3 linked regions of the Homo sapiens genome follow. The protein of the gene in region 3 purifies or fractionates together with the protein of the main gene of each other region. This does not show direct contact. Each region holds a gene or a part of one and is shown on either strand. Other genes may lie near its edges.

Region 1 (3,650 bases), on a different chromosome or scaffold from region 3:
TCTAAGGCCCTGGCAGCCACACCTCCCTGCCACTGCCAGGCAAGCCTGGGCTACTATTTTAATTTACTCTTTGCTTGTCTGGTAGGGAAAACAGCATGTATTTTAATTCGCATTTTAACTACTAACAACATTATAATTTTTCATATATTTATTGGTAATTTTATTTATTTTTTGCGGTTTGCCTGTTCACATGATTGGGCTGCAATTCCATCTGGCTAGTCATCTCTTTCTAATTGATTCCAAGACCTGACAGCACGTGATTTCTCTAATTACTTGTTTGCTTTTACAATCGTGTTTTTGCTGATTTCTGCCACATAGACTGCCAGATTCTATCTAGCCCAGGGTCCATTCCATCCATTGTTGCTGCTCATTTCTCCACCTAAGATGGTGCACACAGGCCCCCATGGATGTCTGTCGCTGACGCTGATTCCATGCAGAATTAAGTTTTCACGTATGGCGTGAGAGAACAAGGGCTAATCAACTGCTCCAGAATAATTTGCTGACTTGGCCCTCACTCCCTCCTAATCGTAATGCCACCTTTTTCACATACGAAAATTTTTGTTCCTTGCATTCTACCCTGCTCTGCCCATCTGTCTTGTTATAGCACCATACTGCTTTAATTACTCCAATGCTACAACAGATTGTCCTATCTGGGTGCACAGGTACCCTCATTTATCCAACCGTCGTATGGGATCTCCCAGGGCCTTGGCCCACCTGCAGACTGTGGACCAGGAGGCCCCACAAGACGGTGCCAGTCCCAGCTGTGGACACTTACTTCAGAGCGCTGAGGTTGAACTCGTACGCGTTGTCCCAGAAGAGCACCTTGCTACGATAATCCTTATCAGCACTGCAGGGCACAAGGTGCAACGCAGCCATGGTGGGCCAAATGACCCCGTCCTCCTTCAGCCAGGCATCCCGGGCATACAGGATGGACTCGATCATGAACTCAAACTGCATAGGAGTGAAAGACACACAGGAGACACATCACAGGCCCCGCGGCTGCACAGGCCTCTCACCACCACATTCGTAACACTAGTCTGACAGTTCTACAGTTTTAGCCTCAAGAATATTCCTGCCTAGGCCAGTGTACCATGCAAGAGAACATCTCGAGGGTTTATTTTATGCCCACACGTCACTGATGCATCTCACAGCCTGGGTTTAAGTCACATAATTTCCCATTAGAACTATGAACTGGAGCAGAGCTAAAAGCAAGGACAAATCTTCACTCTTGTCCCATCTCAGTCACGGAAGAGCTCGTAGCTACCAGATTTTGAAAGAGCCCTGAAGTGTTGCCGGGTCCCAACTGTTACATAAAATATATTTGGTCCGTAGCATTCTCAGAATTTTCACACCCTTTAAGTGGACTGAAATCACTGCTTAAGAAACCGAAAGCCACGCAGGCATGCCCTGGCCATTCACGGGTCCTTTGGTCCACCTTGCATCCCTCAGAAGGTCCCAAGTCAAGGGAAGCACATCACATCTATGACTGAGGAAGTGGGGACCCAACGCCCTCAAAGGCCAGGCTTTCTGTCTGAACCAGAACTTGCTTCAAACACAGAAAGGAGTAGAGGGAGCACCAGCGAGGTGGGGCCAAGGCCTGTGGCCCCTGCAAACCACCCAGGGAGCCTGCACTTCATCCTGTAGTTGATGAGAAACAACAGAAGTGTTTTGCTTCCTTAAATAATCTCAAGCTGCTTTTATTACAGAAGTAATACATGTTTTGTACGGAAAATGTAGAAAACTTAGAAAAGCTCAAACAAACATAAAAATCACATATTAACCCAGTACCTAGAAGGAACCACTGTTATCACTCTGCAGTTTACCTTCAAGTATTTTTCTACACACGCACACAAAAAATATATACATCTTATTTTTCAATCTTATTTTTTCAGTTATGTAGTGAAACAGCTTTTCTGGCGTACAGCCTACGAACTTGAGCGCTTGTGTGGATTTTGTCCTCACAACCACAGCCAGCATACACACAGCTCTGCCACCCAAAACACTCTTCACCCTTTTCTCTGGTGGTCATGCCCTCCCCGACCCCAGCCTCTCCAGCCACCGATCTGGTCTCCATCCCCATGGTCTTGTGTCTTTTTGAGAATATCATACAAATGGAACCAAACAGTACATAACCTTTCAAGACAAGTTTCTTTCACTCACTGTACCGTTTCTGGGGTTCCTCCAAATTACCTGTTTCAATAACTGGCTCCTCTTCACTGCTCAGTGGTATTCCACTGTGTGGACGCACCAGTTTATCCTTAAGGATTATCCAGATGAAGGACACTTGGGTTGTTTCCAGGTTTTGTTTTTTTTTTTTTTGCAATTATAAAGAGAGCTAGTATAATCATTCACATACAGGTTTTTGTGTGAACACAGCTTGCATATCTCTGGGTTGAACACACAGGAGAGGGACTCCTGGGCATAAGGTGAGTGCACATACAAGTCTATAAGAAAGCACCCACCTGTTTCCACAGTGGCATGTTCCCTCCAGCAATGCATGACTTTCAGCTGTTCCTCATCCTCGATGACAGTTGGTATTACTATCAGATTTTTTTTTTATTGTAGTCATTTTTCAATGGGTGTAAGTGATATCTCACTGTGGCTTTAATGTGCATTTCCCTGATGGCTATGCTGAACATCTTTTCATGTGTGTATTTGATATCTGTATATCCACTTTGGTAAAGTGTCTGTTCAAGTATTTTGCCCATTTTCAATTGGCTTGTTTTCTTCCTGTTGAGTTTTGAGATTTCTCTGTATATTCAGAACACACACTGGATATGTTCTTTGCAATATTTTCTCCTAATCTTAGCTTGTCTTTTTTATTCTCTTAGCATCATCCTTTTGCAGAGCAGTCATTTTTAGTTTTGATGAAATTCAATTTATCAACATTTTCTGCTATGGATCACGCTTTTAGAGTAAAAAGTCTTTGCCCAAGTCCAGGTGATGAAGATTTTCTATGATTTTTTCAAGGAGGTTTATAGTTTTACATTTCACACACTTAGATCTATGATCAATTTTAAGTTCAGCTGTGTATGAGATGTGAGGTTGAGGTGTTGTTTTTTAGATATGGATGACAACTATTCCAGTAACATTTGCTGAAAAGACTGTCTTTTCTCCATTAAATTGATTTTTGTACCTTTGTTAAAAAAAACCCATTGACCATATTTGTAGAAATCTCTCGTCTCCATTCCATTGACTTACGTGTCTGTCCCTTCACCACATTGTCCTGATTACTGTAGCTTCAAAATCAAGTAGTATAGTTCCTCCAACTTTACCCTTCTTTTAAAAAATTCTATCAGCTACTCTAGTTCTCTTAGTCCATTTTTGTGTTGCCAAAAAGGAATATCTGAGGCTGGGTAATTTATAAAGAAATGAGGTTTATTTGGCTCATGGTTCTGCTGGTTGGGAAAGTTCAGGATTGGGCATCCAGTGAGGGCTTCAGGCTATTTCCCCTCACGGTGGAAAGCAAAGGGGAGCTGGCACGTGCAGAGACCACAGGGTGGGAGCAGAGGCAAGTGGGCGTGCCAGGCTCTTTTTCACAACCAGCTCTTGTTGGGACCTGAAAGAGCTAGAACTCACTTATCTACCCACGAGGAAGGGCATTCATCTATTCATGAGGGATCCACACCCATGACCCAAACACCTCCCAC
Region 2 (3,650 bases), on a different chromosome or scaffold from region 3:
TTCACTGCAGCATTATTCACAATAGCTAAAAGGTGGAAGTAAGCCAGGCACCCATGAGCAGATGAGTGGATAACCCAACTGTGGTCTAGCTACACAATGGAATAGTCAGCCTTGAAAAGGAAGGGAATCACATCACATGCTACAACATGCATGAAGCTTGAGGACATTTCCTAAGTGAATGAAGCCAGCCACAAAGAAAAATGCTGCATGGTTCCACTCACATGAGGTACCTAGACTGGTCAGAGTCACAGAAACAGAGAGTAGAATGGTGGTTGTCCGGGGCTGGGAGGGGAGCTGGGGAGTTGGTGTTTAATGGATACAGAGTTTTAGTTTTGCAAGATTAAAACAGTTATATAGATAGATGGTGGTGATGGTTGCATAACACTGTGAATGTTAGATAATGCCACTGTAAAAATGGTTGAAATGGTAAATTTTATGTTTTTGAATTTTACCATAAAAAAATGTGGCTAACACCAAGTCAGAAAACAGAAGTGGATGAACAACACAGCAAAGCTCAGCCACACTTCCCAGCGGGATCCCACGACTCTGAACAGCATCTGTGAAGGGTCCTCCTCCTTTACCTGATAAACTCAAACCTCTCAGGTTCAGTATTCAGAAGCTAGCCACAGCTCTGCCCTACCCTCTTGTCTCTGATCTTCCTTTCACTGTTTCCTCCCTGTCTCCACTCCAGAGACTCCAGTCCCACCAGATTTCCCACCGATCTGCTGACATGATGCTCCTGCCTCTGCCTGGACTGCTGACCTCCCCACGTGCTTCTCCCTGCTTGTGAGTTTCTGACATAGGCCCAGCACAAATTCCACCTCCTTCCATGAGCCTGCACTGTAATCCTAGACTCAGCACTCTGCCCTGCGCCGCTCTGTATCTGAGCTGGGTCTGTTTGACTTCTCCACTAGAATGTGAGTCCCAAGGGCAGCGACCACACCCACTTGTTTTTGTACTCCTTACACTCGCTAGCCTGGGCCTTGGTACGGGGCATGGGCTCAATGACATTCATGCTGAGCTGAATTTGTCAAGTGTTGGTACTGTCCCTAAAGAGCACTTGGCATATCTTTGTAGGAGAGAGAAGGTGGTTGAGAAGACAGTTCTGAGGAGGGAGGGAAATGAGTATCAGCTCAAGGTACCTCCGTCAGCACACCTGGCCCTAAGGTAGGCCACCCTCTGGACCAGGCACTGTGCTCATTTGTTACATTTTCTCTGAGGAAGCCAAGGAAACTAGGGACCCTCTCTACTGAAAGGTGTAAGAAATATAGGATGTGCACACACACGCCATCTGTGTGCAATTCAGGGTGTTCGTGAAGCTGCTGAAACTGGGGTCCTTGGAATCCTAGCAAGGAACCCCTGTGACAGTCTCTGAGGTGCCTTCCAGTGCTCAAGGCTGTCTAGGTGTTCTTTGCTGACAATGATAATAACAGTGCTAATAACAGCAGCTACCGTTTACTGAGCACTTACTCTGCGCATCGCCAGGCACAGTGGTAAGCTGCCTTACCCTGTTTAATCCTCCTGGCCCACCACCTCCAGCTTACACTGACACCGTGTTCGTCACTCACAGTCTGCGCTCACCGCGGGCTTACATGGAGGTTTATTTACCCTGCACCTCTCTACTTGGAAATCTGTGTTCTTGAATCAGTGCTTTCTGCCCAAATCTGACCACTGGAAAAACCATGAAAGTTACGAAGTGGAGAAACGAATGCAATACTAGAAACATACTAGAGCTGATAATATATAAATTTTCAGTTGTAACATTTTCATTTATAATTGAGGAGAATGAACTCTGGAGAGGCAAATGACTTTCCCAAAGTCACCCATATAGTGACCGGCACAAGCAGGACTAGACCTGGGTCTCCTGACTCTTAGCCCAGTGAGCTTTCCTTTTCTAACCTCACTTCAAGCAGCACAGTGAATAAAAAGCAGTGGGTCTAAGAGCTCTTTCACTGAAAGGAAGACATTTATTTTCCTTTTGTACTTACTGCATACACACCCTTCTTCTATGGTATGGCAAATTAGAAAACTCATATTTTGGTATAGAGTTAGGACTTTTTGATGATAAAAGCAAGCAGAAGACTTATTTAAATTTGCAAGGAGAAACTCAGCGTGTTCATTTACTAGCTTAGTACCTGGCAGGATCATCTTTGGGAGCAGAAACACAGAAAATTCTATTATCTATTGTAGATCCAAGCGCCCCTTTCCCACTGAAAGCATCTCAGAACCCTGAAGAAGCTGCATCCCTGTACATCTGTCACTGGCAGAACCAGGAACCAGAACGAGGTGAAAACACAAAGAGATTTCTGGCACTAAACGGGTGTATTTGGGTTGCTCATGTAGAAAAAAGATAAAAAATGACACATTAAATATTGGTTTAGGGTCTGCCTTCTGTCCACTAGGATTTAAACTGTGTGAGGGAAGGGACTCAGGCTGTTTGTTCAGTTATAGCTCCAGTGCCTGGAGAACTGCACGTCACAAAGTGGGAAGAGTTTTGGAATTTTTTTTTTTTTTTTTTTTTTTTTGCGACAGTCTCGCTCTGTCACCCAGGCTGGAGTGCAGTGGTGCAATCTCGGCTTACTGCAACCTCTGCCTCCCGGGTTCAAGTGATTCTCCTGCCTCACCCTCCCAAGTAGCTGGGATTACAGGCGCACGCCACTATGCCCAGCTTTTTTTTTTTTTTTTTTGTATTTTTAGTAGAGACGGGGTTTCACCGTGTTAGCCAGGATGGTCTCAATCTCCTGACCTCGTGATCTTCCCACCTCGGCCTCCCAAAGTGCTGGAATTACAGGCGTGAGCCACTGTGCCCAGCCAGTGGAATTTTTTTTTTTTTTTCGAGACACAATCTCACTCTGTTGCCCAGGCTGGAGTGCAGTGGCATGATCTCAGCTCACTGCAACGTCTGTCTCCAGGGTTCAAGTGATTCTCCTGCCTCAGCCTCCCTAGTAGCTGGGGCTAAAGGCATGCGCCACCACGCCTGGCTAATTTTTGTATTATTTAGTAGAGACAGGGTTTTACCATGTTAGCCAGGCTGGTCTCGAACTCCTGGCCTCAAGTGATCCACTCACCTCAGCCTCCCAAAGTGCTGAGATTACAGGCATAAGCCACCACACCTGGCCAACCATGGCCCCAGCTGAAATTTTTATTGACTTAATCATGAATGAATAAAATGATATGGCAATACTAATAAAAAATTTTATCCCCAACATGAAGGAAACAAAAGGACATTCTGCTCATAGGATTATACATGACTTGGATACTGCTTAATGTCTAATCCAATATTTTGCATTCTACAGATCTTATCATAAAACCTATGGAAGAAATCGAGGATGTTTGCATAGGACGTTTTTGGAGAATTTGGCCTTTTGAAAGAAAATGTAACTAAGCTCTGTGGTTCTGAAAGCTTCCTCTACCTGAGATGATTTCAAGATCTCCAGGACACCTGTGGGTATCATTGGTAGATGCTGTTCAGGTAGTTAAGGTGATGTTGGTGAGTATTATTTGATAAAAATGCTGGATATTACATTAACTCACTTCCATTCTAGACTGCCAGTAACTACTATCACCTACCTTTTACTTCACCTGATAGAGATATGGGAGTTAAAAGAAAATTTTTCATCACTAATGGTAGTCTTTGAGCTATATAAGGT
Region 3 (3,465 bases):
GTTCAGTGAGGCTCCCAAGTAAGGCTCTGGGTGAACAACGCTGTCCGTGGACAATACCAGGCTGGGTGGTCCCACCAGGGCCTGCGTGTGGCCCAGGCCCGAGGGCGCTGCGACTCCGGGTTCTCAGATTCCAAGAGTCTTTTAGACACAACTGGCAGCCAGAGAGAAGGCCTGAGCAGGGGTCCCACCAATGCCCCGGCAGAGCCACTCCAGGCCGCGGAGCATCTGCCCCACCCACGAGGCTCCCAGTTCCTGAGCCCCTCTCTCTCCAGGCCACCTGCCCCCTCTGAGGGAAACCAACAGGCCACCCTCCTCCCCTCCCATCCCCGCGGGCCTCACAGATGGCTGCAGGTCCGCAGAGCCCTGTGCCTCCAGCAAGGCCAGTGAGGTGGTGATGCCCCACCCTGCCCGAGCCAGGGCCAGCCCTGCAGGAAACAAGGACAAGCCTCAGCCCACCCCGCAGAGCAAGGAGAAGACTCAGGCTGGGGAGGGGCCGGGGCACTCTGGTCTGAACGGGGAGTCGGGAGTCTGAAACCAGAACACCAAGGCAGAGAGAAAACAGGGGGGTGAGTGACCCGCCCCTGCAGCCTGGAGGTGGCCCCGAAACCTTGCACAGAGGGCAGCTCATGTTCTCATTGGCTCGAGGGCAAAACTGTGAGTTATCTTTGGAAAAAGGGGCTACCTTCCCCCTCACTCAGAGCACAGGGCAGCTTGCTTGCCCCACGAGTCCCCTCTCATCCCCGAGGCGGCTGAGGTCTTTGCTGATGACACACCAGCTTGCGCCCCCAGCTGTCCCCTCCTGATTAGGGGGAAGCTGTCACGGGCTGGCTGGGCACCAGTATTCAGAGCAGATGAAGATGTCACTCCAGACAGGAGGGCCACACAGGAATTCTGAAAACCAGCATCGATAAACAGCAACGGAAACAAAAGCCCCGTTCCCAACTCCTGCAGCTCCAGGGCTGGGGCCCGAAGACCCTGTAGTCGCCCAAGCCCCGTGGGGTGTGGCAGGGTGTCCTGAGAGCCCGGTGGGGAGGCGCCTGGCTGGGCTCACGCTAGTTCTTGCCACGAAGGCTGCTGCCTCAGGAAAGCCACTGCCCTGGGCCACAGACAAGTAGTAACAGAAATAAGGAGGGTGACAACACATCTCTTAGGCAGAGCAGTGACAGGCTGTGCCCCAAAGTCCAAACAGGCCAGGCAGAGAAGGGCAGGGACAGGGCTCAGGCTGAGAAGAACAGCTGGCGTCCAGGCAGGGTGGCCAGAACGGGTGGGCACAAAGGATGGGCCCGCAGGCCTAAGTCATTTGGTGCGGCGCCTCCAGCATCTCCATAAGGAAGGTGTCAATGGGTGTGTCCCCGATGAGCTTGAAGAAGAAGAGATGTTCCAGGCATTTGAGCCCGATGGAGCGCAGAGCCGGCAGGCGGAGCAAGAGCTTAGCGAACCTGCAGGGAACAGGTCTGGTGAGGGCCGGGCAAGGGGCATGGGCAGTTCTGCCCTGGCACTGGAGGCCTCCCTGGGGATGGGGCTGTGTCTGATACCCCAACCCCTCTGAGGCTGGTCTGTAGCCCTGAATCTGCCTATGCCAAGCCTCCAGAAGGAAGGAGGGGAGGCTAGAAGGAAACAGAGGCAGTGGCAACCCAGAGCCAGGACAGAGTGAAGGGAGATCCCTGGGTCTGAGGACGGAGATGAAGGGCCAGGGGCCAGACAGCAGCTGGCTAGGGCAGACTGAATAGCTCTTTGTGAAGAAGTTAAAAATTGCAGGCAGTTGGGCATGATGGCTCACACTTGTAATCTCAGCACTTTGAGAGGCCGAGGTGGGAGGATGGCTTGAGGCCAGGAGTTCGAGACCAGCCTGGGCAACGCAGTGAGACCCTGTCTCTACAAAAGAAAAAGAGAAAAACAGTAGCAAGGCGTGGTGGTGCATGCCTGCAGGGAGGACCGCTTGAGCCCAGGAGGTTGAGGCTGCAATGAGCTACGATCGCAGCACTGCACTCCAGCCTGGGCGACACAGCCAGACTGTCTCTCAAAAAATGAAAAACTGTGGGCCATGACAGCCGGGAGCGGGTGTGAGTATCAGTAATGCATCTGGCTGCAGCAGCCATCACAGCAAGAGACTGCGGGGCTTGTAAGGGAAAGGGCTGCTGAGCACACTGGTGAGTCGCAGGGAACAGGCCCGGCACATGGTGGGCAACCAAGAAGTCAAAGAGCATCAGGCGGGGGAGGGGGAGTCAGGCTGCACCCCCACTGCAGGTGGAGCCAGGCCTGACTTGGGAGCTGTGTAACGGTGCAAGACCCTTTCCATAAAGCATCAGCACCCCATGAGTGCCTCCCACGGCACCTTGTGCAGGGCTGTGGGCCCCAGACCAGGGCCACCCCTTCCTCAGAAATAGCTCTGCTGGCATTGGGCACAGCATGGTCAGAGAAGGCTGGCCGGGGAGGGAGGGAGCACGGGTTGGTCCTCAGGGCCTGGCCCATCCCTGGGGAGTTTCCTGGGGCAGGGACCAGTGGGGGGGCGGGAGGGAGGGGGGAAGTCTGGGGCTCTGGGAAGAGGGATAGCAGGGCCAGGCATGAGGGCAGCAGCTGCCGCTGAGGACAGGGTGCTATGGGGACGGAACCAGGTGTCCCTTCCGGCTGGCCGTGTCTGCCCAGGGCCCCTGTGCACGGCCTGAGTCTCTCCACACGGCCCCTCCAGGGGCTGCAGGACCTCATTAATTATTAACGAAGTCTTTCTTTCAGGGAAAAGCTCTGTGGTTGGCTGCCTCACAGGCCTTGTTTTAAAGGCAAAAACAGCGCAGAGGCTGGAGTTGGGCCAGAGAACAAGCTGTTTTCTGCTGAGCTGGCGAGATGGGCCAGGGCAGAAAGCCAGGAAAAACAAGCTGCCTGCCACCCCCTCCTGTCCTCGTCCTCCGGGAAGTTTCACTTTAAACCAAGCCAGATGAGGGCTGGGCAGGCAGCGGGGACACGGTTAACTGTGTATGTGCTGGTGGCGGGAAGGCCTGGGTGTCCTATGAGGTCTGCTGGGCCCCACCTCCCCCGACCCCCTCCCCGCCCCACAGTCTGAGGATCAAGAGGCCAGGAGATGCCCCTTTAGAGAGAAGAGGCAGAATCTGGAGCGCTGACTTTGAATCCCAGGCAGGGATCCACAAACGTTTCTCTTCCTGGACACCTACTGTGCACCCAGCACTGTGGACTCAGAAATGAGGGAGCCCCAGCCCTTCCAGGGCCCACAGCCGGGCAGGGGGGAAACATGAGCGCTACGCTCAGGCCGTGACCGCCTATTCCGTACACACTTGTAGAGAGTGTTTAGTATGTGTGGGCATCTGGCCATCCATTCTACACATGCTTGTGAAGTACCTACTATGTGCTGGTGTCGCCTGGCCTCTGGTGGTTCTGCTTGGTAGGGGAGCGCAGTGGGGGGTGAAGCACAGCCTTCATCTATCTACTGAACAAAGAGAAGCACCTACTATG

What was found.
Region 1: the proteins of RXRA (region 3) and PRMT2 purify together in Homo sapiens (pull-down; one study listed by IntAct). This does not show direct contact.
Region 2: the proteins of RXRA (region 3) and RIPK1 fractionate together in Homo sapiens (co-fractionation; one large-scale study listed by BioGRID). This does not show direct contact.

Annotation. Positions count from the first base shown.
Region 1 is NC_000021.9:46,656,046-46,659,695, reverse strand, and holds part of PRMT2 (protein arginine N-methyltransferase 2), read right to left. Parts: intron 952-3,650; coding exon 776-951; coding exon of another isoform or gene 772-775; exon of another isoform or gene 1-771. UniProt on the Homo sapiens protein: Arginine methyltransferase that methylates the guanidino nitrogens of arginyl residues in proteins such as STAT3, FBL, histone H4. Acts as a coactivator (with NCOA2) of the androgen receptor (AR)-mediated transactivation.
Region 2 is NC_000006.12:3,106,438-3,110,087, reverse strand, and holds part of RIPK1 (receptor-interacting serine/threonine-protein kinase 1), read right to left. Parts: exon of another isoform or gene 3,297-3,650; intron 2,287-3,296; exon of another isoform or gene 2,191-2,286; intron 787-2,190; exon of another isoform or gene 692-786; intron 1-691. UniProt on the Homo sapiens protein: Serine-threonine kinase which is a key regulator of TNF-mediated apoptosis, necroptosis and inflammatory pathways.
Region 3 is NC_000009.12:134,434,441-134,437,905, reverse strand, and holds part of RXRA (retinoic acid receptor RXR-alpha), read right to left. Parts: intron 1,440-3,465; coding exon 1,292-1,439; 3' UTR 1-1,291. UniProt on the Homo sapiens protein: Receptor for retinoic acid that acts as a transcription factor.